7 linked regions of the Homo sapiens genome follow. The protein of the gene in region 1 purifies or fractionates together with the protein of each later gene. This does not show direct contact. Each region holds a gene or a part of one and is shown on either strand. Other genes may lie near its edges. The genes, in order: CEP162, SPICE1, PIBF1, PFKL, BSPRY, TOP3A and C2CD3.

Region 1 (3,500 bases):
AATCTTCCTCCAGCAGTGATTTTTTTTTTCCCCTCTCTTGAGCCAGAAACAGAAAAGAATGTAAAGGGTCTCACTGGGTCTTTCCACCCGGGTCCACACAGTCAGGATGTGGTGATTCCTTCAGCCACTCTCCCACTTACCTCCTGTGAAATGCAGTGCATTAAACTGACCTTAGGCCCTTTGGCTTTGGGAATTTTGCAAATTATTTTTTCAATTAGCCATTTTAAATGTTATGGAAAGAACTGTTTTTAGACACCAAATTTTCTTCAGATATAATATAAAAAGTTTAAAAAAGACTTTACATACGCAAAAGCTAAAGAAACTTAAAAGGCCGTTTAAAGGATTAATCTATTATGAGCACATATATTATGTTATATAAGTACTAATGACTTTTAACTAAAATGCAGTTTTCTGTTTTTAAAAAGGAAAATGAACGATTATATAATCAAGTAAAAGATCTCCAAGAACAAAACAAGAAAAATGAGGAGCGAATGTTTAAGGAAAACCAAAGTTTATTCAGTGAGGTAGCTTCCTTAAAGTAAGTCCTTTTGAACTTCTTAAAATCAAATATACTTAGACTATTTCAAGCATTTTCTTATTATGTTAATAATACATTTATTTTTACTTAGACATAGTAAAATTTTATTTTTATTTGTACACATTTCCAATTTTATGTTTAATACTCAGTGGATTTTTCTTTTGGTGTTAGATGGCCAGCACATACTTGATAGTATTTTCAGCATATTCATATTTGAATTCATATGAATTTATGTTCATAACTGATTCAAACATCAGTTTCAGGAAATTGAATATATAGTATTCCTCTTGATCAGTCATTAAGAATGAGATAATTAACCATTTCCCAAGGAACCATTTGATTAATAATACTAAAAAAGAATGGTCATACAGTATCACTTATGATCTTCTTGGGTCAGGTTCCATAGAAGCAGAGCCTGAGATGGTGGAGGTCCTTGTGGAGATGATATACTGAAGGATAACTCCCAGGAGAAGGGAGCAAGGGAAGCAGGAACGGTGAGGTAGGGGGAGGGCAAATAGTGGTCTCAGCTGGAGACTGGCTTCATTCTCCTCCCAAGAAGCTCTGGAGAATAAATTGTACCAGAGTTGGTCCCTGCTTGAGGCAAGGGGGCAGCCTTAGTCACTGGCCGGAGTGTACTGTGGAAAGGAGTAGGGGCTGCCCTTTATGCCGGGTCAGGGGCTGCGGTTTAAAGGAGCACCTGTAAGTTGTTTTCAGCCAGCATTTATCATGGCAGGGTTATGGAGCACCAGCACCTACTTAGGAATCATATTTCAGACTATAAGGTCTTTTGGACGTTACTGCTTCCAACTTTAACATATTAAGTGAAAAAGCTGGGCCCGTGAACATGGACAAGCTAGCATACTATCTTCTTTTAGAAAATGACCACTATTTGTGTATCTTTTTATGTAAACACCTAATCACTCAGAAAGGACTGTTCTCAGAAGTTTCTGACCCATGAGTATCATGAATGTTTACTGAATTTATTTATATACTTCTCCCCCTTTTTGGTTATATAACCTAGGGCCTAAGAGGCAGGGCTGCTAATAATAGCTCATACTGATCTGTCAGGCAAAATAGAAAAAGACACACTTGGTAGCAGACTATATATATATATCCTCTTTCTCCTTGTAAGTTGGTAAGTGTAACCCCAGGCCATGTGTGATAATCTGCACAGTGGTAATGCATGAATGCATTTACTTACGCTTTTTTTTTTTTTTTTTTTTTTTTTTTTTGAGACGGAGTCTCGCTCTGTCACCCAGGCTGGAGTGCAATGGCGTAATCTCGGCTCACTGCAAGCTCTGCCTCCCAGGTTCATGCCATTCTCCTGCCTCAGCCTCCCGAGTATCTGGGACTACAGGCACCCGCCACCATGCCCGGCTAATTTTTTGTATTTTTTAGTAGAGACAGAGTTTCACCATGTTAGCCAGGATGGTCTCTATCTCCTGACCTCGTGATCCACCTGCCTCGGCCTCCCAACGTGCTGGGATTACAGGCGTGAGCCACCGTGCCTGGCCTACTTATGCTTTTTTTCCCAGATGTTTCAGTAAAGTTATTTTAAAATATCTTATCTTGTACTACTTGGCTTCTAAAAGAAGATCTATCCCAGGATCCAAAATTGAAGCTGTAAATTAACTTTCAGAATGAAATAAATGGTTTCTTTAGTACATTAGGGTTAGATGATCTTATGTGGAATCCAAAACTCCTTCTATAATATCTCTGGAATAACAGGAAAATTGAATCTAAAGTCCAGATATTAGGCTGTGTTTGGTTTTGTTTGTTAGTTTCCATGTATGAGACTGGCGACTCTCAGAAAAGATTCTAGAACAATATGACAAGGACTGCATTAACAACCCCACAGAAAAATGCAGCGCATCTTTGTAGACGATTAATTTTTTTCCTCTGAGAATTGGGAATTAATATTTTTATATTATAAATAAACCAATAATCTTAGGTTTCAGTTCTTTTAGAATAGATATAAGCATTTCCCTTAAAGTATATTTCTCTTTTAGTATGGTAGTATTTTAATCTTTAGATTAAATGAAAATTTTACCTTCATTTATGCATACAGTTTCAATGTATGTTAGTTTTTAATTTTTAAGAATTGAATATTTTCTACTGAAAGGAGCACCTGGTAAGAAAGAAAAACAACTTTTTATTTTCAAAATAAATTAGAGAACAGATGCACAAAAGTCGTTTTCTGTCTCAAGTAGTTGAAGATTCAGAGCCCACAAGAAATCAGAATTTTACAGATCTGTTAGCAGAACTACGGATGGCACAGGTAAGTTGCATAACGATTTTGACTATTAGGGATAATAAAGGTTTTATAAAAATCCCCATTTTTATACAAATTTTTATTAAAAAATTACATAGAAATGTATTAAAAAATCTATAAATTTCATACCATTTAAAACTTAGGGAGAAATATCTTAAATTAGCATATAGTATGCACATGACCTTAGTATAGAGGAAACATTATATTACTGTTTTTAGATGTCATTGTCTTTATGATTCAGCCTCTCATCAGGCATTTGTCACATCTCATCAGGTGCATTTATCATAGAGCCATATCAGAGGCATGATTTTATTTAGGACATGTATACCTTATTTCAAACAAATTCCTTATTTGAAAGCGTGCAGCCTAAATAGTGTAATTTGGAGATAATTATTTACCTTTAAAAGTTAGTAGCTTTCTACCTGTCTTCCGAAGTAGACTGCACTTCTAGAGAGCAGAGACTGTATCTTACAAGTATTTATATTCCACATACCTAACATAAAGTTGAAATGCAATGCTGTTCCATAACTTTTTTATGTTTATTAAATTGTATTATAAAGAATATGGCCTAGAGTTTTCTAAAGCAGTATTTATCAATAGAAGGAGTTTGGGAATTTAAGGCAGGGTAGTTCTATTTTAAGCAGAAGTAATTCATGCACTGCATGATTTTTATCATCCCTGTCCCTAAGA
Region 2 (3,500 bases), on another chromosome or scaffold:
AGGTAGGCTGTAACTTTAGCACTTTGAGAAATAGACAAATGAGACAGTTGAAAATTAAAATATCAACCTTATCAGTGATAAAAGTGTTTATAGCATAACGCTTAGCTCTGTAACCAATGTGCTTGTAATTACTAACCCCTAAACTGCAGCATCTCTTCTCACTCTATCTAGCCCCTCCCTGACACACAGGGACAGAGTATGCTGTGGTCAATTTACTTCATTGATGAGCAGAGACTGGCTGCTCTGTGGACAGGCTCCTTTGTAGGACAGAGAAACCAAAAGGGGCTGAGCCATATATGCTTAATTACTTTACTCTAGAGAAAGAGAGAGGAGGATGGAGCCATACCACAAAACTGCAGAAAGGGCAAACATACCTATGTTAGGGACCAAGGTAGGTAGGAAACTGGGAGGCAGATGGAATGATTCTTTCTAACACTAAGGTGATAGGCATTTTTGCTATCTACCTGTCTTATCAGTTATAGTGAATAGTGTTTTTTCTTTGACTATGAATTACTAAAAGCTCCTTCAAATCAAACATGTAACTATTTGAACAGTTTAAATGATAGCACCTATTTTTTATATAAATTAATATAATATACATATAAATTAGATATAAATATAATTTAATTTATATAATTAAATTATAAATTAAATTACATGTAATATAGAATATATTTTATAATTATGTGTAATTATTATATAATTATATATAATTAATTATATAATTTAATTATAAATTATAATTAAATTTATATGCATATTTATATATAAAATTAAATTTATAATTATATAAATATAAATTATAATAATATAGATAATGTAAATATAAATTAAATGCCTGCTATCATTTAATTTATATTTATATTATATTAATTTATATTATAATTCTCATGTAGCTTATTGTCCTGTAATTTATAGGTTTCTCCAACAACTAACAGAAGAGAATTTTGAGTTAATTAGTAAGTTGTGGACTGACATTCAGCAGAAAATAGCAACCCAGTCACAAATAACTCCTCCAGGAACGCCATCATCTGCTCTTTCATCAGGGGAGCAAAGAGGTTTGTTTCCCTTTTGCATTATTTCTAGGTGCCTGCTTTATTAGGTTCATTCTTGAATGCAGTAATTTTTGAAGGAATGTTATTTGAGTTTTGACTGCCTTTGCCTAATTGACTAAAATACTGATGGATCTGTCAATTGAAATACTTTCTTAAGAAGTTTGTTCACTTGAGATACTTTTGGAAATGTTCTTCCTTTTAGCTGCTCTGAATGCTACCAATGCTGTCAAGAGACTCCAAACCAGGCTTCAGCCTGAAGAATCTACTGAGACTCTAGACTCAAGCTACGTTGTGGGACACGTGCTGAACTCAAGGAAGCAAAAACAGCTGTTAAATAAAGGTTCAGTCCCTTAATTTACAAAGATGAATATTAAACATGTAACTTGATACAGCTGTCTTAATCTCTTAGTCAATGTTTTTCTCCCTTAATCTCATCCACATGGTTCCAACTGAAAGTTTATTGAATGGTAGCTAAGAAATGTCTCCTACCACATGTAACTCTGGAACAGTGGTTCTAGTGCATTCATTATAGCTAGTGTAAATCTGGTTTAAACTGTTTAATTTTTATGAGAGAAATGGTGATATCGTCTATACAAGCCTTTTATAAATTGTGAACAATAGTCAAAAGATTTTTCTAGTAGTTTTCTAGTCATAATTTTTCCTGGTCTTAAAATAGAATGACTTCTCTCATTATCAGTGAAAAGGAAACCGAATTTGCATGCTCTTTCCAAGCCGAAGAAAAACATATCATCAGGTAGCACAACCTCTGCAGACTTACCAAATAGGACTAATTCCAACCTGGATGTCCTCAAACACATGATACATGAAGTGGAACATGAAATGGAAGAATATGAGCGGTGGACAGGTCGCGAGGTCAAGGGTCTGCAGAGCAGTCAGGGTCTTACAGGCTTCACTTTGTCGCTGGTGAGCTCCCTCTGTCGCCTGGTTCGGTACCTTAAAGAGGTAAGGACATTAGGTTAGTAGAGTCTTCTTTTCAGGCAGAAATGCATGAGTTTTTTTTCCTTTCCATTTATTGCAACCTCCAAATAAAGTACAGTCAAATTTGAATAGCTTCGTTTAAAATACCTCAGTTTTAGATTATCTGCAGTAAAGGCTTATCCTTTAAGTCTTTTCTGCCGTTAGTTGATACATGCTCAGATAAGTGATTTTAATTTTAATAAGAGCTTTAGCAAATTATAATTAGTAGGGTAAATCTGCCATTAATATAATTATATCTTGTGCTAATATTAAATATTACTGTTTGACAGTTGTAGATTAAATAGAACTGTTAACTGTGTCTGCATTCTATTGCTATTCTCTGCTTCCTACTCCCACATTCAGTTTGGAGAGTGGCATTGCCTATAATCGGTAGACTTGATATGTGGGAGAATTCTTCATGTTCCCTGTATGTCTGGTAACTCACATATGGCTTCAATGTCTAAGTGGGAGATGTTTTATTGTTGTAAAAATAATTTATAAAATAAGCAAGAATTCTTTGTTTGGCTGGGTGTGGTGGCTCACGCCTATAACCTATAATCCCAGCCCTTTGGAAGGCCGAGGCGGGCAGATTGCCTGAGGTCAGGAGTTTAAGACCAGCCTGGCCTCAACGTGGTAAAACCTTGTCTCTACTAAAAATACAAAAATTAGTCGGGCATGGTGGCGGGCGCCTGTAATCCCAGCTTCTGGGGAGGCTGAGGCAGGAGAATTACTTTCACCAGGGAGTTGGAGGTTGCAGTGAGCCGAGATCGCGCCACTGCACTCCAGCCTGGGCGGCAGAGCAAGACACTGTCTCAAAAAATAAAAATAAAAAAAGAATTGTTTGTTTAATTTGATTTCAAATAATCATCCACAGAATGCCACAGAATTAGAGTTAGCTATGTGTTTCATCTTTGAAAATCTATTTAAACTGTTATGTACTTAAGCCTGTTATACAAATATGACAAAAATGTTTAAGGAAACTTTATTATTTAATAAGATAGATTTACCACCTTAATACAGATGTTTTAGTTTCTCTAGAGCCGTCTTCCTAAAATTGAATTGCTTTTTTTTTGAGACAGGGTCTCATTCTGTTGCCCAGGCTAGGGTGCAGTAGTGGCATGATCTCGGCTCACTGCAACCTCCACCTCCCGGGTTTAAGTGGTTTTCCAGCCTCAGCCTCCCAAGTAGCTGGGACCACAGGTGCATGCCACCACACCCAGCTAATTTTTGTATTTTTTTTGTAGAGACAGAGTCTCACTATGTTGCCCAGGCTGGTCTCGAAATCCTGAGTTCAAAGCGATCTGCCCACCTTGGCTTCCCAAGGTGTTGGTATTATAGGCGTGAGCCTCTGCACCTGACCCTAAAATTAACTTTTTAATGACAGATTCATTGTATTGTCAGACCTATTAAAACCTTAACATTCTTTCACCCTTAACTCAGGAATCTTCAGGAGTATACTTTTGGCTC
Region 3 (3,500 bases), on another chromosome or scaffold:
CTCTTTAAAGAGTTCTTCCAGAAGTTCAAGCCAGTGGCCTCAATTGACTAACATTGTATAGCATGACCACCCCTACCTACAAGGGATGGGAAGCTAACTGGACATGTTGTTACTAATAAAAACCAGAGTATGTCAGAAAGAAGGGAAGGTTTGATGTTGGGAGGCAAGTAAGTTTTTTCTTCTACCCATCAAAATCTTTTTTTAGTTAGAAAATATTTGAATCTAACATGTCCCACTCCATTGTGGCACCAATACAAATGGTTATGGATACATGGCTTTATTATAGTTTGTTACTAGGAATAGTCTTGGCCGTATTGATTTGAATTCTCCATGTCTAAAAACAGGAACAAGCAGGTCCAAGAACACTTTAAAAGCACTTCCCACTCAGCTGCTTGTTAACTGAAAGAATGTAGAAAAGCTACTCAGAAGAGTAGCTATTCAGGCCAAACTTCCTGATAGTAGAGCATTGTTAGCTTTACACTTTTATTTCCATCTATTGCTGCCTAGATTCCCTTCCTTACTGTACTTCTTTATTCCTTTCCTCTTCTCTGTTCTTGCCTTTCAAATTTTTAGACAGGGTCTCACTCTCTTGCCCAGGCTGGAGTGCAGTGGCTTGATCACAGCTCTCTGCAGCCTCAAATTACTGGGCTCAAGCAATCCTCTCATCTCAGCCTCTTGAGCAGCTGAGACTACAGGCGTGTACCACCACACCCAGCTAATTTTTTTAATTTTTTTGTAGAAACAGGGTCTCACTATGTTGTCCAGGCTAGTCTCAAACTCCTGGCTTCAAGCAATCCTCCCACCTTGGCCCCCCAAAGTGCTGGGTTTACAGCCTGAGCCACAGAATTGAGCTCTTTAAAATTTTTAAATGCCCCAAACTCTTTTTATTTATCTCTCATTAGAGATCTGTGGGTTCCTTATTACCTGGGAAATGAATACATTTCCCAGCTTGTCCTTGAGTTAAGAGACTCAATTTAGAAGTTAATTGAAATTATAAACATTGAAACCCTGAAAAAAATGTTTTTTTTTTCCTCGTGATACAGGTTGTTTCTTATCTAAAATGCTTGGGACCAGAAATATTTCAGATTTTTGATTTTTTTTTTAATTTGGGAATATTTGTGTTAGACCAGTTGAGCATCCCAGATCTGAAAGTCTGAAATCCAAAAGGGTCAACTGAGCATTTCCTTTGAGTGTCATAGTGACTCTCAAAAAGTTTCAGACTTCAGAGCATTTTGAATTTCAGATTTTAGGGTTTGGGATGCTCAACATGTAACAGTATTCTTGATTTGGGAAACAGTAATTATAAGGAATGTGTTTATTTTACATTTTATATTGATTTATTTATTGAGATGTTGCTGGATATATGCCAATGGATATGACAGAGGTCCCCCTTCTTATGGCCAAGACAGAAAATATTTTATGCTTTGTAGGCCACCTATGCTCTATCAGATTTTTCTTATGGGCTGGATTTAGCCCATCACCATTTTTTAATTCTTGCTTTAGACTATGTAGTCAGAAAAGCTATTGGCAAAGTTTAGCAGTTAAGAGTTACATGTCCTGATTTCTGTATTCAAAATGGCACTAAAATAATAGACTAAGGGCAGACAAGACAGAAACAGAAGAGTTACATTCCTAAGTTTTTGGCTTATTTAACTGGGGCCATTTATAAGAATGGAAGGCTGGGAGAAAACTGATCTGGGAGGTAAAATATATTAATAAGTTCAGTTTTGAAGGTGTAACTTATAGATTCCTAAATGTAATTGTCAGTTAGAGTTTAGGAGGAGTCCATCACACACACACACACACACACACACACACACACACACACACACTTATAGATAGATCACACACACCCTTATAGATAGATCACACACACACATAGATAGATAGATAGATAGATAGATAGATAGATAGATAGATAGATAGATAGATAAATCAGCATATAGGTGGCACCTAAAGCCATGGGATTGTATGGTATTTCCTAGGGAGAACAGAGGGCTATAAAGTAAGTCAAAGGGGTAGTCCAGCTGAGGAGCCTAGAAAGCTTAAGAGTATTTAGTGAGTTAAGAAAACTAGAGAAGAGTATCATGGAAGCTAAAAGAGAATGAAGTGGTTAGCTGTATCAAGTCATGCTGTCAAATAAGATAAATAGGCAGAAAAAAACAATGCACAGGACATTATGGACTTTAACAAGAATAGTTTCACTGGAATAGTATGGGGCAAAAACTATATTGAAGTTTTGCTCTGAAGACCAACAGAGAAATGGTGCTATAGCAAAGAGAATGATGTGATCAAGGGACCATTTGCTTGATGATAGAATGATTCAGTAGAGAAGAGGGACTTGACGATGCAAGAGGAGGGATTTACTTGCATATGTTATGGATTGGCTGTGAAATTCATGTATTTTTGTTTGTTTGTTTGTTTGTTTGTTTGTTTGTTTTAGATGGAGTCTCACTCTGTCGCCCAGGCTGGAGTGCAGTGGCATGATCTCAGCTCACTGCAACCTCCGCCTCCCGGGTTCACGCGATTCTCCTGCCTCAGCCTCCCGAGTAGCTGGGACTACAGGCACATGCCACCACACCCGGCTAATTTTTTGTATTTTTAGTAGAGACAGAGTTTTACTATGTTAGCCAGTATGGTCTCCATCTCCTGACCTTGTGATACACCCGCCTCATCCTCCCAAAGTGCTGGGATTACAGGTGTGAATCACCACGCCCTGCCTGAAATTCATGTATTTTAAGGGGCAAACAGGAATCGTCTTGGTTAAAGCAAAGGGAATAAAGAATTTTCTAAATAGACTAAGAGCAAAATCCAAGTGCTTGAGAAAGCACAGCATACTTGGGGGATGGCAAGCACTTAATATTGGCTGAAATGGAGTTTCCTTTTAAGCTAATGACAAAAGTAGTTGGCTAGATCAAGAAATACCACTGTATTATGCCACAGTGTTTAGAATTTATTCTGAGGACAGTGAGGATCCTCTGAAGAATGTAAAACTAGGAAAATAATTTTTTTTTTTTTGAGACGGAGTCTCGCTCTGTCTCCCAGGCTGGAGTACAGTGGTGCAATCTTGGCTTACTGCAGCCTCCGCCTTCCAGGTTCAAGTGATTCTCCTGCCTCAGCCTCCTGAGTAGCTGTGACTACAGGCGCCCGCCACCATGCCTGGCTAATTTTTGTATTTTTTAGTAAAGATGGAGTTTCACCATGCTGGCCAGGCTTATCTTGAACTCCCGACCTCAAGTTGTCTGCCCGCCTCGGCCTCCCAAAGTGCTGGGATTACAGGCGTGAGCCACCGCACCCAGCTGAAAATAAATTTTTGATAGCATTTTTTAAAGGTAAGATAGAGGAATATAAATTTGGAGGTTGGCAAAACTGGAGGCAGGAGGCCAGGCGCGGTGGCTCATGCCTGTAATCCCAGCATTTTGGGAGGGCAAGGTGGACTGATCACTTGAGGTCAGGAGTTCAAGAACACCCTGACCAACATGGTGAAACCCTGTCTCTAC
Region 4 (3,500 bases), on another chromosome or scaffold:
CCACCACCCGCCCTCTGAGATGGACAGGGTGTCCAGGCCTCCCCTACCCCCTGTCCTCTGAGATGGGGAGGGTGTCCAGGGCCTTGCTTCTCAGCGTGGGACTGACAGGTTTGCCCTGACCTCCACAGGCATGAACGCTGCTGTCCGGGCTGTGACGCGCATGGGCATTTATGTGGGTGCCAAAGTCTTCCTCATCTACGAGGTAAGGCCAAGGTGGGCTGTGTGTGTGCAGGGAGTGGGGACCTCCTGAGGCGCATGCCGAGGTGTGTTCTGTGTGGGTCACACTGGGAGACGGGGTGGTCCTGGCCTGGAGGAGCTGATGGGTATGTGGTCTTGGGGAGTGTGAGGGGGAGCTTGGGGCCAGGCCAAAGGCATCTGCAGAAAGAAGACCTACTGCCTTGGGACTCAGCCCGGCTGGAGGCTCAGAGGCTGCAGAGCACGGGCCTGGGGGCAGGGAAGGAGCTGGGTGGACAAGGAGTCGAGGCCCTGCCTACAGTGATCGCTGACGGGCCAGGCCCCACCCACCACACCCCTGCCTGGTGTCCCCCAGCCTGGCCCTTGTCCCGCCCCGAGGCCTCTGTGAGTGGGGGCCAGGGACCTCACCGCCTCTGCCCTTGTCCTCCCCAGCCTCCTGCCTCACCACCCAGACCCGGGGGGCAGCCGCTGGCAGCAGCTCTGCTGTGTCTATGTTCATTGTGTCCCCGCAGGAGCAGCGGATGCCCTACTGCCTCAGCCCCAGTCCCCGTGGGAGATTTGGGGCTCGCCCTCCGTCCTGGGTATTTACACACCCACACTTGCGCTCACACATGTGCACACACAGGCGCATTCACACACTTGGGCCACACCACGCACTCACAGGCTGCATTCTTGCCTTGTCAGGTGGTTTTCCACATTCCACAAGACAAGGTCTTTTGTTATTTTGTTGCCACTTTTTATGTAATATGTAGCTGTTTATATAAAATGTAGCAACCCCAGCTCTGCAGCCCCAGGCACTCAGCCCCACCCCCCTCACTGCTCACTGCTCGCTGCTGACCACTCACCGCCCTGGGTCTCAGTTCCCCCATCTTGGCCCCAGGGAACAGCAGCCTGTCCAGCCCTCCCTCTGCAGGACTGTGTGAATGAATGAGTGAGTGGGCAGTCTGTGCTGGCCCGTCCTCTCCCTGTGGCCAGGCTGGGGCCCTGCCAGTATTGGATTAGGAAGCAGGTCTCAGAGCCCTGGGGAGCTGGGTGTGGGGGCCTCTCTAGGCAGGCTGGGCTGTGTCCGTACAAACCCCTCCTGCCACCTGCTCGACCTTCAGTTTCTTCTTCTAAGTGGCAAAGGGGAGAAATTAGGGTTTTCCGGAACCCCCACACATTTGTGGTTGGGAAAGACTCCTGTGGCAAAAGACAGAAAACAGGTTCATCGGTGCAGGGCGTGTCCTGGAAAAGGGGAGAAGAGGCACTTTGCCGTGCCTAGAGTCCTGGCTTCTGCAGAGCCCAGCAGAGACCAGTGCACATGGAGAAGCCGAGGGGTACAGGGACGCAGCGTGAGGCCCTCGGAGGTGGGGGAATGCAGGAGGGTGAGTTTATGGGAAAAAGAATGAAGTGGGTGGGCGCGGGTCCTGGGGCTGTCTCTGGGTCCTGAGGGCTGTGAGGGGCATTTACATCCTGTCCAGGCGGTAACAGGAGGAGCCTTAGTCTTGGGATGCTGTGTGCTGCTTTCCTCTCAAAGGGAGGCAAGGCTGAGAGCTTCCCTGAATCTGCTGCCTAGTGGGCTTTAGCTCAGAAACATCCACATCTAAGAGGCAGATTTTGAGATGAGACATTCTGATATAGCGGCCCAGGGAAGACTTCCCCTCCGTCCCATGAAGGTTCTTGGAAGAATCCACTTGCGAAAAGCGGATTAATAGGGCAGAGGTGCTGGCATTCATTGTGAATAGGCATGGAGAGGTAGGGCGAAGATGCTGACCTGCCCTCCTCCCAGGGAAAGGGGCATGGGCAGCCTGGATGATTCTAGGGGGGTAGGAATTTTTTTTTTTTTTTTTTTTGAGACAGAGTCTCATTCTGTTGCCCAGGCTGGAGCGCAGTGGCACAATCTTGGCTCGCTGCAACCTCTGCCTCCCAGGTTCAAGCAATTTTCCTGCCTCAGCCTCCTGAGTAGCTGGGATTACAGGCACCCACCACCACGCCCAGCTGTTTTTTGTATTTTTAGTAGAGACGGGGTTTCACCATGTTGGCCAGCCTGGTCTCGAACTCCTGGCCTCTGGTGATCCACCCGCCTCTGCTTCCCAAAGTGCTGGGATTACAGGCGCGAGCCACTGTGCACGGCCATGAATGGTTTTTAGGGGATTCAATGGGCTTGGACAGCATCTGTTAGCCCTGGTGACCACCTGCCCAAGTGTGTTGGCAGACACAGGTCTTTCTTCCTACGATGACCTCAGTGCATGGAAACTCAGGGAGGGGACTGGCCGTCACTGTTCCTTTCTCCAGCAGCTATGGGCTTTAGGCAGATTCGGGGGCTTCAGGGAGCAGCTGCATCCTGAGCTTGGAGGAGGCAGAGGGTCGAGAGGCAGAAGGGGGAGGTCAGGGAGACCTGCGGCTGCGTCAGTTCACATCAGACTGCATTTTGGGTTTCTGAGCCCCCAGCGCTGGCTTCCTTCAGCAGGGAGACCGATCCCTTCTCCTTGGGGCTATTGTTAGGGCAGAAAGGGAGGGTGGCCTTGGAGGTGAAAACCCTTCTCAGTTCTGACACAAAGGAGGGCTCAGAACAGGCTACTCTTATCCCCCCAGGCAGAGCCCACAGCATAGCAGGGAGGGCCCTGAGCCTGGGTCCAGGCCTGCAGGGGTGAGAGGAGGGGGCGGGGCTAGAGGGGAAGGAGGGGAAGGTGAGCTGGGCCTAGGAGGACAGAGACGGAAACAGAGTGGGTAGAGGGGGGCAAACAGCTTCTAGAAGATTCCAAGGGTAGGAGGAGGTTGTGTCTGTGAGACTGATTCCAGCAGAACTGAGCCACTGGCCTTGTGGGGTCTCTGGGGACTGCTGGGCTGGCCATACCTGCCTGCCCCTCCGCCCAGTGGGGCAGGGGCCTGGCTGGCGCCTGGGCTCTGTATTGGATCCTGAGTTTTGCAGACAGACCTGTGTTTGGTGGCCTCCTGCTCAGGTGGGGCTGTGGGTTTGGGATCATTTTCCTGTTTTCCTTGTTCCTAGCTCAGGGCTGGTACAACCAGAGGGGGCCAGGCTGGCCTGGCCTGAGCCGGAGGAAGTAGCTCTGTGGTCCCTCAGATCAGCCCCTGAGATGGGGCAGGGGCACCTGTCCCCCAGCCCAGCTGGTGGGGAAGGGAGGCTGTCAGGCTAGAAGCCCGCCATGGCCAGAGTGGGGATGTTCATGCGCCCCGCAGCGCGCACTATCCCTTGACCCCCTGCCTGCTTGAGGCACTTGCCCTCCTGGCCCCCAGGGCCCTGACACCTGGTTGGGGAGAAGGCGGAGGGAGGAGCAGAAGCCCACAGCTGAGCTGGCATCCGC
Region 5 (3,500 bases), on another chromosome or scaffold:
ACAAAACAGAAATTCCTATTTTCATGAAGCCTACATTCTTGTCACAGAAGAGGGACAGTAACAAAATCTATGTTATGTCCGAAGGTGATATGTGCTATGGGGAAATATAAAACAGAAAGGGGAATAGGACGGGTTGCAATTACATGTGCTGTGACCAGGAATGACTTCATTAAGAAGGTTGAGGCTGGGCGCAGTGGCTCATGCCTGTAATCCCAGCACTTTAGGAGGCTGAGGCGGGTGGATCACGAGGTCAGGAGTTCCAGACCATCCTGGCTAACGCGGTGAAACCCCGTCTCTACTAAAAATACAAAAAAATTAGCAGGGCATGGTGGCGGGCGCCTGTATTCTCAGCTACTTGGGAGGCTGAGGCAGGAGAATCACTTGAACCCGGGAGGCGGAGGTTGCAGTGAGCTGAGACTGCGCACTGCACTGCAGCCTGGGCAACAGTGCGAGACTCTGTCTCAAAAAAAAAAGAAAGAAACACTTTGGCTGCTATGTTTAGAAGTGATTATAGGCGGCAAAGGTTAAAGCAGGGAGACCAGTTAGGAAGCCATTGTAATAATCCAGGTGGGAAACAAGTGTGGTCTGGACCCAAGCAATGGTGGCAAAGCTAGTGAGAAGTGGCTAGATTCTGCATATATTTTGAAGAGGCAACAGGATTTGCTGATGGACTAGATGTAGGCTATGAAAGAAAGAGGGGAGGTGTCAGGATAATGCTGAAGTTTTTTTATTTGAGCAACTGGCAGGATGGAGCAGCCATGAACTGGGTGGGGGAAGGACTGCATGTGGAGTGATGGTTGGCGGAGGCAGGGAGGGGAGTGGGGGAGAGCAGGCATGCTAAGTTGTTGTGGGCATGTTATGTTTGAGATACCTATTTGACATCCAAGTGAAGGTGCTGAGTAGGTAGCTGCATATATGAGTTGGGAGAGGGCTGGGTTGGAGATATAAATTTGGGATTTATCAGTGTATAAATAGTATTGAAAGCCGTGGGAGAGGATGACATCACTAAGTGAATGAGTGTAGACACGAAAGAGCAGCGGTCCAAAGACTGAGCCCTAGGGCACTTCACCTCCTATTGAGAAGACAGAAGGAACCAGCGAACGGGGACCAAGAAATCAGCTAATGAAACGGAAGTAAACTAAGAGAGCAGAGTGTCCCAGCATGGGTTCCAAGGAGGTGGGAGAGATCACTGCTCTCAAATGGTGTATATTTATTTAACTATCTTATCACAGGCATAGATTCATGTGATTACTACCACAATTAAAATACAGAACAGTTCCATCACTAGGACTCCTTGTGCTACCCTTTTATAGCCACATGTACCCTTTCCTATCCCCTTGTATTATTAATACAAAATTTCTGAATTTGGATTGCTAATCTCAGTAAAGCATTTTTTATTTTTGTTTTAGGATTTTTGCTTGTATGCTCAGGAGTGAGATTAGTCTATGAATTTCATTTCTTGTACAGTCCTCATCAGATTTGGTATCAAGGTTATGTGAGCCTTATTCAATGGATTGGAAAACAGAACTCTTTTTTCTTAAGGGTTTACTTAAGATAAAGTTGTTCTTAGTTTTGATCAAAGTTGCCACAGGTTTGACTGTTAGTCTTTAGAACCAGCTTCTAGTATTTTTGGTCTACTCTTTTGTATCTTTGTCTTAATTTCATTATTATTTCTTTCTCTTTTTTTAGACAAAGTCTCACTCCATTGCCCAGGCTGAAATGCAGTGGCGCAATCATAGCTCACTGCAGCCTTGAACTCCTGGGCTCAAGTGATCCTGCTGCCTTGGCCTCCCAAACTGCTTGGATTACCAGCATGACCCGGTACTGTGCCTGGCCTGTAGAGTTCTATATATATATATATATATATATATATATATATATATATATATATATATATATATATCTCTATTAAGCTTATTCATTGGGCTGAGCATGGTAGCTCATGCCTATAATCCCAGCACTTTGGGAGGCCAAGGCCAGGAGGATCACTTGAACCCAGGAGTTCGAGACTGTTTTGGGCAATATAGCAAGACCCTATCTCTACAAAAAATTAAAAAATTATCCAGACATGATGGCATGGGCCTATAGTCCCAACTATTTGGGAGGGTGAGGTGAGAGGATCACTTGAGCCTAGGAGTTTGAGGCTGCAGTGAGCTATGATTGCATCACTGCATTCTAGCCTGGGTGACAGAGCGAGACCCTGTCTCAAAAAACAAAAAATAAAAACCTCTTTTTTTTTCTTTTTTGAGACAGAGTCTTGCCCTGTCACCCAGGCTGGAGTGCAGTGGTGCGATCTCAGCTCACTGCAGCCTCCACCTCCCAGCTTCAAGCAATTCTCCTGCCTCAGCCTCCTGAGTAACTGGGATTACAGGCTCCCACCACCAGGCCCAGCTAATTTTTGTATTTTAGTAGAGGCGGGGTTTCACCTTATTGGCCAGGTTGGTCTTAAACTCCTGACCTTGGGTGATCCACCTGCCTCAGCCTCCCAAAGTGCTGGGATTACAGGTATGAGCCACCGTGTCCAGCCACAACCACACTTTTAAAAGGATGCTTGGGCTATTTTTCCAGCATTTCTCTACTTTATTCTGAGAGGGTTTTTGGTTTGTCTACTCTCTGTCATGTGTTTGGAAAGGGAAGTTTTTCTTTTCTTTGCTCTCCTTTTCTGGGAATGGCTCAACAAACTTGTTGAGAATGACTAGAGTCTTTTAGGCAGGAATCAGAATCTGATTCATCTTGGGTGAGGATCTGTTTTGATCCAGGATCACACAGTACAACCATGGTTTCAGGGGCTCACCCTGTGGGTAAGGCATTAAAGTGGGATAAACAGGAGAATAATCGTGGGCTGGATGCAGTTGCTCATGACTGTAATCCCAGCACTTTGGAAGACTGAGGCAGGAGGATCGCTTGAGCCCAGGAGTTCAAAGCTGCAGTGAGCTATGATTGTGCCACTGCATTTCAGCCTGGGCATCAGAGCAAGACTGTGTCTCTTAAAGAAAAGAAAAGAAAAGAAAAAAAAAAGATAAAGAAGAGCAATAGTGAATGAATGTTATTGAACACATAATGTAGCAGGCTTTGTTCTACTTACTTTATATATATTAACACATTTAACCCTCACTATAGCCTTATGAGGTAGGTACTATTATTATCCTCATTTTACAGATTAGAAAATAGAGGCATAGGGAAGATAAGGAATATGTTCTAAGTTCCACAGCTAATGAGCGGAGCAGTTAAGATTTAAATCTACACACTACCTCTAAAGCTTAATTTCCTGACCACTATGTTATGTTGCCTCAAGAGCACACTATAAACTTGGAGTCTTACCTTCTGGGTTCACTTGCCATTCACTTAGCTAGTCTCTCCTCCCTGTAAGGCAAACTGTGGGTCTCAGTGTTTTCTGTAAAATAGGAATGATTGCCCTGTGCACTGTACAAAGCAGGTCTTAAGGGACAGGGCATAGGGAAAGCTGCTGGCTGTCCCTGACTTTCTGACATGAAGGAGGC
Region 6 (3,500 bases), on another chromosome or scaffold:
GAGTGTAGTGGCACGATTTCAGCTCACTGCAACCTCCGCCTCCCAGGTTCAAGAGATTCTCCTGCCTCAGCCTCCTGAGTAGCTGGGACTACAGGTGCGCATCACTGGCTAATTTTTGTATTTTTAGTAGAGATGGGGTTTCACTGTTAGCTAAGCTGGTCTCGAATTCCTGACCTCAAATGATCCACCCGCCTCGGTCTCCCAAAGTGCTGGGATTATAGGCCTGAGCCACCATGCCCAGCCAGACTTTTTTGTTTTATGTAGGGACAGGGTCTTGCTATGTTGCCTAGTCTGGTCTTGAACTTGCACCCTCAAACTGTCCTCCTACCTCAACCTCCCAAAGTGTTGGGATTACAGGAGTGAGCCACTGCACCTGGCCAGATTTGCCTACTTTAGTTATTTCCTATAAAGAGCCAGGCACAGTGGCTCACACCTGTAATCCCAGCACTTTGGGAGGCCAAGGTGGGCCAATCACTTGAGGTCAGGAGTTCGAGACCAGCTTCACCAACATGGTGAAACACTTTCTCTACTAAAAATGAAAAAATTAGCTGGGCTTGGTGGCAGGCGCCTGTAATCCCAGCTACTCGGGAGGCTGAGGCAAGAGAATCACTTGAACCCGGAAGGCAGAGGTTGCAGTTGATGGACACTTGAGTTGTTTCTACTCTTTGGCTATTATAAATAATCCTGCTGTGAACAGTTTTGTACAAGGTTTTGTGTGGATATGTGTTTTCATTTCTCTTGGGTAGACTTAGGAGTGGGATTGCTGGTTTACTTGGTAACTCTACATTTAACATTTTTAGGAACCACCAAACTTTTCTGAAGTGGCTGTACCGTTTTTCATTTCCACCAGCAAGGCACTAGGATTCCAGTTTATCCACATCCTTACTAACACTTAGTATTATCTCTCTTTTTGATTTTGCCAGTAGGTCTGAACTGCTATTTCACTGGTTTTTTTGGTTGTTTTTTTGTTGTTATTGTTGAGGTGGAGTCTCGCTCTGTTGCCCAGGCTGGAATGCAGTGGCTCGATCTCCGCTCACTGCAGGCTCCGCCTCCCAGGTTCATGCCATTCTTCTGTGTCAGCCTCCTGAGTAGCTGGGACTACAGGTGCCCGCCACCACACCCGGCTAATTTTTTTTTTTTTTTTTTTGTATTTTTAGTAGAGACGGGGTTTCACCGTGTTAGCCAGGATGGTCTTGATCTCCTGACCTCGTGATCTGCCCGCTTCGGCTTCCCAAATTGCTGGGATTACAGGCGTGAGCCACCACGCCCAGCCCTTTTTTTTTTCTTTTTTTTTTTAAAGAGAGTCTCACTCCATCACCCAGGCTGGAGTGCAACGGTGCCATCTCAGCTCGTTGCAGCCTCTGTCTCCTGGGTTCAAGTGATTCTCCTGCCTCAGCCTCCTGAGCAGCTGGGACTACAGGTGCGTGCCGCCACACCCTGCTAATTTTTGTATTTTTGATAGAGACAGGGTTTCAGCATGTTGGCCAGGCTGGTCTCGAACTCCTGACCTCAGATGATCTGCCCACCTTGGCCTCCCAAAATGCTGGGATTACAGGCATAAGCCACTGCTCCCAGCCTTCACTGCAGTTTTAATTTGCATTTCCTTCATGGCAGAGCTACATTTTGAAAGGTCCCTTTGGCCACAGCTTAAAGAATGGTTAGGGTAGAGGAAGAGACTAGAAATAGGGACACAAGCTGCAAGTATGGCTTGGACACATGGGGAAGAGAATTTTTAAAAAGAGCTTTGAAGCTGGAATTGACAGCTTTCCTGAGTAATGGGATGTGAGGGAACAAGAGAGTTGAGGTTGCCATTGTGATTTCTTGAATGAGCTATATGGGAATGAAATGAAGGCATCTTACCTGCATAGGCTGTCCAGGCAAAGGAGGGATTCCGGGGTGAGCAAGGTGCCCATGCGCCACCCGGGTGGAGCTGTTGTCTGTATTACCTCAGAGTAACCAGCAAGTGGCTTCCAGGTACGGATGCCACTCATGCGGAGCACATCGAGACCATCAAAGCCCGGATGTACGTGGGCCTCACCCCAGACAAGCGGTTCCTCCCTGGGCACCTGGGCATGGGACTTGTGGAAGGTAAGGGAGGACAGAGCTTGCAGTGGGTAGTGGGTGGTGTCGCCCAAGTCCCTGAGGGTCTCAGGTGGGCCCTCACTGAGCTCGACTCTCTCCCTGCAGGTTATGATTCCATGGGCTATGAAATGTCTAAGCCTGACCTCCGGGCTGAACTGGAAGCTGATCTGAAGCTGATCTGTGATGGCAAAAAGGACAAATTTGTGGTTCTAAGGCAGCAAGTGCAGAAATACAAGCAGGTTTTCATTGAAGCGGTGGCTAAAGCAAAGAAGTAAGTCCTTAAAAGAAATACAGAGGGGTCTCACTATGTTGCCCAGGCTGGTCTTGAACTCCTGGCCTCAAGAGATCTTCCCACCTCAGCCTCCCAAAGTGTGGGGATTACAGGCGTGAGCCACCGCATCTGGGCCAGTCAGAGTTTATAACCCTGCCAGATTCATCCTCACCAGTGGCCTCCTGGCCTGGAGGTTTTCCACATACCCCTTTTCTTTGGACTTTCTTCTCTGGGTTCTTTTACAACTCTCCATAGAGCTTTGTCAGTATAGAAACAGTAATCGGAACAGTCTCCTTCAGTTATTCTGAACTATTGGCTTTAGAAATACCATTCTCTTGATTTTAATTATCTTTTTTTTTTCTGCTTTAATTACATGACACATTAATTATCTTGAGTTAGGCAACAAAGTCTTTTAAATCAGTAAACCCAAGTGCTGGAGTGTGATCCATTTGTTTTCTGGAGCATTTAGAGGTGGATATTTAGCAAGCAGCATGTGTGTATTTTGTTAGAAATGATGTGTTTTCTACCTGTGATATTATGATTTATAATAAGATATATATATTTGGACTTCATTTTCTGATACCCTTGGAATTTTTTAAGTGCTGTGTCTGTTGTATACAAATGAGATGACTAGTGGCCAAGGGCTCCTGGGTAGCCTTGGGATCGGTCTGGTTGTCAGGGAACCAACCCTGTGATTAGAAGGTTGGGACTTTGAGTCCCACCCCTACCTCAGGAAGAGCAGAGGGGCTGGAGGTTGAGTTGATCACACGTGGCCAGTGATTTGTCAATCATGCCTAAGTAATAAATCCTCCATAAAATCCCCAAACAAGGGTCAGGCACGGTGGCTCACGCCTGTAATCCCAGCACTTTGGGAGGCCGAGGCGGGTAGATCACAAGGTCAGGAGTTCAAGACCAGCCTGGCCAACACAGTGAAACCCCTTTCTCTGCTAAAAAAAAAAAAAAAAAATACAAAAATTAGCCAGGCATGGTGGTGCGTACCTGTAGTCCCAGCTACCTGGGAGGCTGAGGCAGGAGAACTGCTTGAACCCGGAAGGTGGAGGTTGCAATGAGCCGAGATTGCCCCACTGCAGTCCAGCTTGGGCAACAGAGTGAGACTTCTTCAACAACAACAAAAACAAATCAAACA
Region 7 (3,500 bases), on another chromosome or scaffold:
TAATTTGAGATGACTAGTAGCTTCTGTTTATTAAGTGGTTATATATTCACCACACAGTGTATGCCCATTTCTTTCGTGTATTCTCTACTGTAACCTTATGAAGTGGGTGGTGTTGATTACACTGTACAGATCAATAGGCTCAGAGAGGATGGTTTGCTTATGATCACAAAGTTAACAAGTGACAACAGAGATTCGAACCCAAGATTGACCGGCTCCAAAGCCTATGCTCTTTCCAACATACCTTGCTGCTTCTATTTTCTGTGTAAATCTTCCCTGCCTTATCATATGGGTGATAGATATTTCCTTGCTTTTATTTTCGAAGTAAAATAGGTAGTTTTAATAACTGTCATCAAATAGGTAAATAAGTGGATTCTCATTTTGATTTTTAATATAGGTAGTTACTGAAGTAACTGGAAGCATGAACATGCCCACCAGGACTCCCAGCTCCCAACGATTCCTGAGCATGAGCAGATAGTCTCTGAAAGCATTTCCACAGATGTATCCACAACTATAGATTAGATTCTGGTCCTCTGATATTAGAATAAAGTACTAAAAATTGTACCGCCTTGAATATAGTCTCACTGAATCTTGGGTGGACTAATTTTCTTTATGGTTTGTTCAGAGTCTGATTGCCATAGTGCTTCTGAAGCTAAAGGCTAGTGTGGGAAATTTGAGGGGTCTGTGGCCCTACCTTGTAATAAGAGTGATATGTGTTGCTGTTCAGATCTGCAGACTATCACCAGGGATTCGCAAGCAGCTTTGAGTTCTCACCGAGCCAGGAGTAGAAGCAACAAGGCCACCACCCTCCCAGATGCTCAGGACACAGAAGCACTGCAAGAACGATGCACAATGCCAGATGAGCCATTGGTAAGAGCTCCAGATAAAGGCACAGATTCCCCATCACCCCCTCCTCTCGAAGAGACTTCAAATGGAGGAAGAATGCTCCATGAGTCCCTGAGGCATGCAGTACCCATTACAAGGATGCAGAGCAGTGAAGACACTGAGGCAGGCCCAGCCTACAGTGATGAGGACTATGAAGAAGACATCATTGAGCCCAGGACCTTAAATGAGATCACCACGGTGACAGACAAAACTAGCCCTTGGTCTAGTGTCATATCAGACACAAGTGAGGTCATCAGCCCTCAGCCTGACGAGGTGCAGAGGGAAGGCCCCTCTTGTCCTTCTCCAGGGCCTTTCTGCAGAGAGGAGCTTATGGTCAAAAGTAGCTTTCTCTCCAGCCCAGAAAGGGCTGTCAACCCCCACCTGCCTAGGCAGGGTTCTCCTAGCCAAAGTCTTGTTGCTTGTGAGTGTGAGGCCTCTAAGGCCAGGGTTGGTGGCGAGTCTGCCTCAGCCAACCCTCAGCCCATCCCATGCCCAACACTCTCAGGAGCTCAACAGAGCAGCACGTTTGTTGGATGGAGCTCACCACAGACAGATCAGAACAAGGAGCCCAAGTCAGAGGCCCCAGCTGAGAATGAAGCTGCCACCAGTGAGCTCGGTGACTCTGCTGATAGCTTCAAGAAGTTGCCGCTAAATCTAGCCTCCCAGAGCAGAAGGGAAAACCATAAGGGACCACCCATCGACTCCTCTGACATCAGGCAGAGGCAGGTGACAACTGGATCAGAGACGTCCACAAAGCAGAGCCTCCTGCTGTATCCTTTGGCATTTCCCACAAGTGGTTTGGATGCAGGTACTTAGACTAGCCTAGTGTGAGTGTGAGCAAGTGGCCACCCTCATGGAATGCACTAGGGGGCATGGAAAGACCATTCCTTCAGAAGACCCCACCTGCATGACAGGTGCTACAGTTTTACCATTAACACCAGCCCTCAGAAACATAATGCCTTGAACTGGGTTTAGGCATTCGTAGCACATTAGCCTAGCCTACCCTGATTTATCCAATTCATCTGTTGGGTATTTTACCACCTGAAGGCAAGGCTTGGGATCTAAGGAATGAGACTATTTATCAGTTGAAAGAGAAGCAGAGGGTCTAGAGAAAGAGGAAAGAAAATCACTGCCATTGAGCACTTTATGTACATTTTTCATTCAGTCATCACAAGTCTTTTAGGTAGGTATCATCCCTATTTTGCATATATAAGGAAACTGATGCTCAGTTATTGTGACTTGCCTTTTTTTTTTTTTAAGAGACAGGTTATTCTGTCACCCAAGCTGGAGTACAAGGTTATTACCATACCTCACTGCAGCCTCAGATTCTTATACTCAGGTGATCCTCCCACCTCAGCCTTGCAAGTAGCTAGAACTACAGGTATGCAGCATCACACCCAGCTAATTTTTTTTAAGAGTTGGGGTCTTGCTGTGTCACCCAGGCTGGTCTCAAACTCCTGGCCTCAAGCAATCCTCCTGCCTCACCCTCCCAAAATGCTGCAGTTAGAGCATTTGAGCCACCACGCCTGGCCAGATTAAATTTTTTTAAAAAAGGAAGTGATGGAGCTAAACAGGCACCATGGAGATGGACTTTCCCAAGTCCCCAGTAAGGTACTGTTGATGGGAACAGGGGGCACCTGACATTCCCCACTCCTTCCTTTTAAACACAGACTGGCATGTTATGGGGAAAGGAAACCACTTAGGACCATCTACAGCCTTCACACCTGTAGCCTAACCAGCTGATCAGATCAGCTCACCTGCTATCCCAACAAGCAGGGAATATTGTACGGCTGGCAGGTGAAGCAGGCTGCTTTACTAGACTAGAGATCTTCCTCTACTAGAAGTCAGGGAGCCTGACTTTGACCCTTCTAGACCCACAAAATTATTTTTGTGATTATAGACATATAGTTTAATCTTTATGTGCACGTTTCTTCACCTGTAAAATGGAGGCGGAAATCCCTTACCCACCAAATTATAAGCTCCCCAGGTCAGGGACCTTGTCTTTTTCTGCATCCTCAGGACCTAGCACTACACAGAGAAGGGATTGGTAAATGTAGATTGGATTGAACTATCACAGTTTCACAACATTGTTGAGAAAACCAAATGAGTGGAAACATTTGTACACACCACACAGTATGATTCTTGATGCAGATCAGAGAAAAACCTAGGGGTGGGAGAGTGGGCTCAGGAAAGGATTAAAGCATGCAATGGCTGGAGGCTGAGCTTTGAAAATAGACCTCCTTGTGTGCAGTTCTCCCTGGCCTTGCCCATCCTGGATCCTGGCCCCTAATGTTGCTGCCTTTGCAGTCAGTATTAATTGTGCTCAGAATATGGCCGATGGAGGAGATGCCACATGTGCCCAGACCCTAAGTGCTGCTTTAACTTAGGCCTTCCTGACTATTCTTTCAAAAATAAATCGTGCCAGGCCCTGTGCTGGGTGCCAAGGACAGATTTGAATGAGACCTTACCTCGAGAAGTTCCCATTATGAGATAGGAGACAGTCAAGTAGATAGATACTGACAGTTTATTGTGCCAAGTACTGTGATGAGATGTGGACAGAACGCGAGGGACCATGAGGAGGGAGCTGCCCTAACTCTACTTGGAGCCATCCCAGTAAG

The links.
Region 2: the proteins of CEP162 (region 1) and SPICE1 purify together in Homo sapiens (affinity purification with western blotting; one large-scale study listed by BioGRID and IntAct). This does not show direct contact.
Region 3: the proteins of CEP162 (region 1) and PIBF1 purify together in Homo sapiens (affinity purification with mass spectrometry; one large-scale study listed by BioGRID and IntAct). This does not show direct contact.
Region 4: the proteins of CEP162 (region 1) and PFKL purify together in Homo sapiens (affinity purification with mass spectrometry; one large-scale study listed by BioGRID and IntAct). This does not show direct contact.
Region 5: the proteins of CEP162 (region 1) and BSPRY purify together in Homo sapiens (affinity purification with mass spectrometry; one large-scale study listed by BioGRID and IntAct). This does not show direct contact.
Region 6: the proteins of CEP162 (region 1) and TOP3A purify together in Homo sapiens (affinity purification with mass spectrometry; one large-scale study listed by BioGRID and IntAct). This does not show direct contact.
Region 7: the proteins of CEP162 (region 1) and C2CD3 purify together in Homo sapiens (affinity purification with mass spectrometry; one large-scale study listed by BioGRID and IntAct). This does not show direct contact.

What each region holds. Positions count from the first base shown.
Region 1 is NC_000006.12:84,168,644-84,172,143, reverse strand, and holds part of CEP162 (centrosomal protein of 162 kDa), read left to right. Parts: intron 1-425; coding exon 426-538; intron 539-2,710; coding exon 2,711-2,816; intron 2,817-3,500. UniProt on the Homo sapiens protein: Required to promote assembly of the transition zone in primary cilia. Acts by specifically recognizing and binding the axonemal microtubule.
Region 2 is NC_000003.12:113,466,657-113,470,156, reverse strand, and holds part of SPICE1 (spindle and centriole-associated protein 1), read left to right. Parts: intron 1-918; coding exon 919-1,058; intron 1,059-1,257; coding exon 1,258-1,395; intron 1,396-1,752; coding exon 1,753-2,018; intron 2,019-3,500.
Region 3 is NC_000013.11:72,788,633-72,792,132, forward strand, and holds part of PIBF1 (progesterone-induced-blocking factor 1), read left to right. Parts: intron 1-3,500.
Region 4 is NC_000021.9:44,306,553-44,310,052, forward strand, and holds part of PFKL (ATP-dependent 6-phosphofructokinase, liver type), read left to right. Parts: intron 1-128; coding exon 129-202; intron 203-707; coding exon of another isoform or gene 708-776; intron 777-3,500. UniProt on the Homo sapiens protein: Catalyzes the phosphorylation of D-fructose 6-phosphate to fructose 1,6-bisphosphate by ATP, the first committing step of glycolysis.
Region 5 is NC_000009.12:113,356,041-113,359,540, forward strand, and holds part of BSPRY (B box and SPRY domain-containing protein), read left to right. Parts: intron 1-3,500. UniProt on the Homo sapiens protein: May regulate epithelial calcium transport by inhibiting TRPV5 activity.
Region 6 is NC_000017.11:18,283,995-18,287,494, reverse strand, and holds part of TOP3A (DNA topoisomerase 3-alpha), read left to right. Parts: intron 1-1,974; coding exon 1,975-2,088; intron 2,089-2,187; coding exon 2,188-2,353; intron 2,354-3,500. UniProt on the Homo sapiens protein: Releases the supercoiling and torsional tension of DNA introduced during the DNA replication and transcription by transiently cleaving and rejoining one strand of the DNA duplex.
Region 7 is NC_000011.10:74,031,503-74,035,002, reverse strand, and holds part of C2CD3 (C2 domain-containing protein 3), read left to right. Parts: intron 1-394; coding exon of another isoform or gene 395-405; exon of another isoform or gene 406-561; intron 562-724; coding exon 725-1,652; intron 1,653-3,500. UniProt on the Homo sapiens protein: Component of the centrioles that acts as a positive regulator of centriole elongation.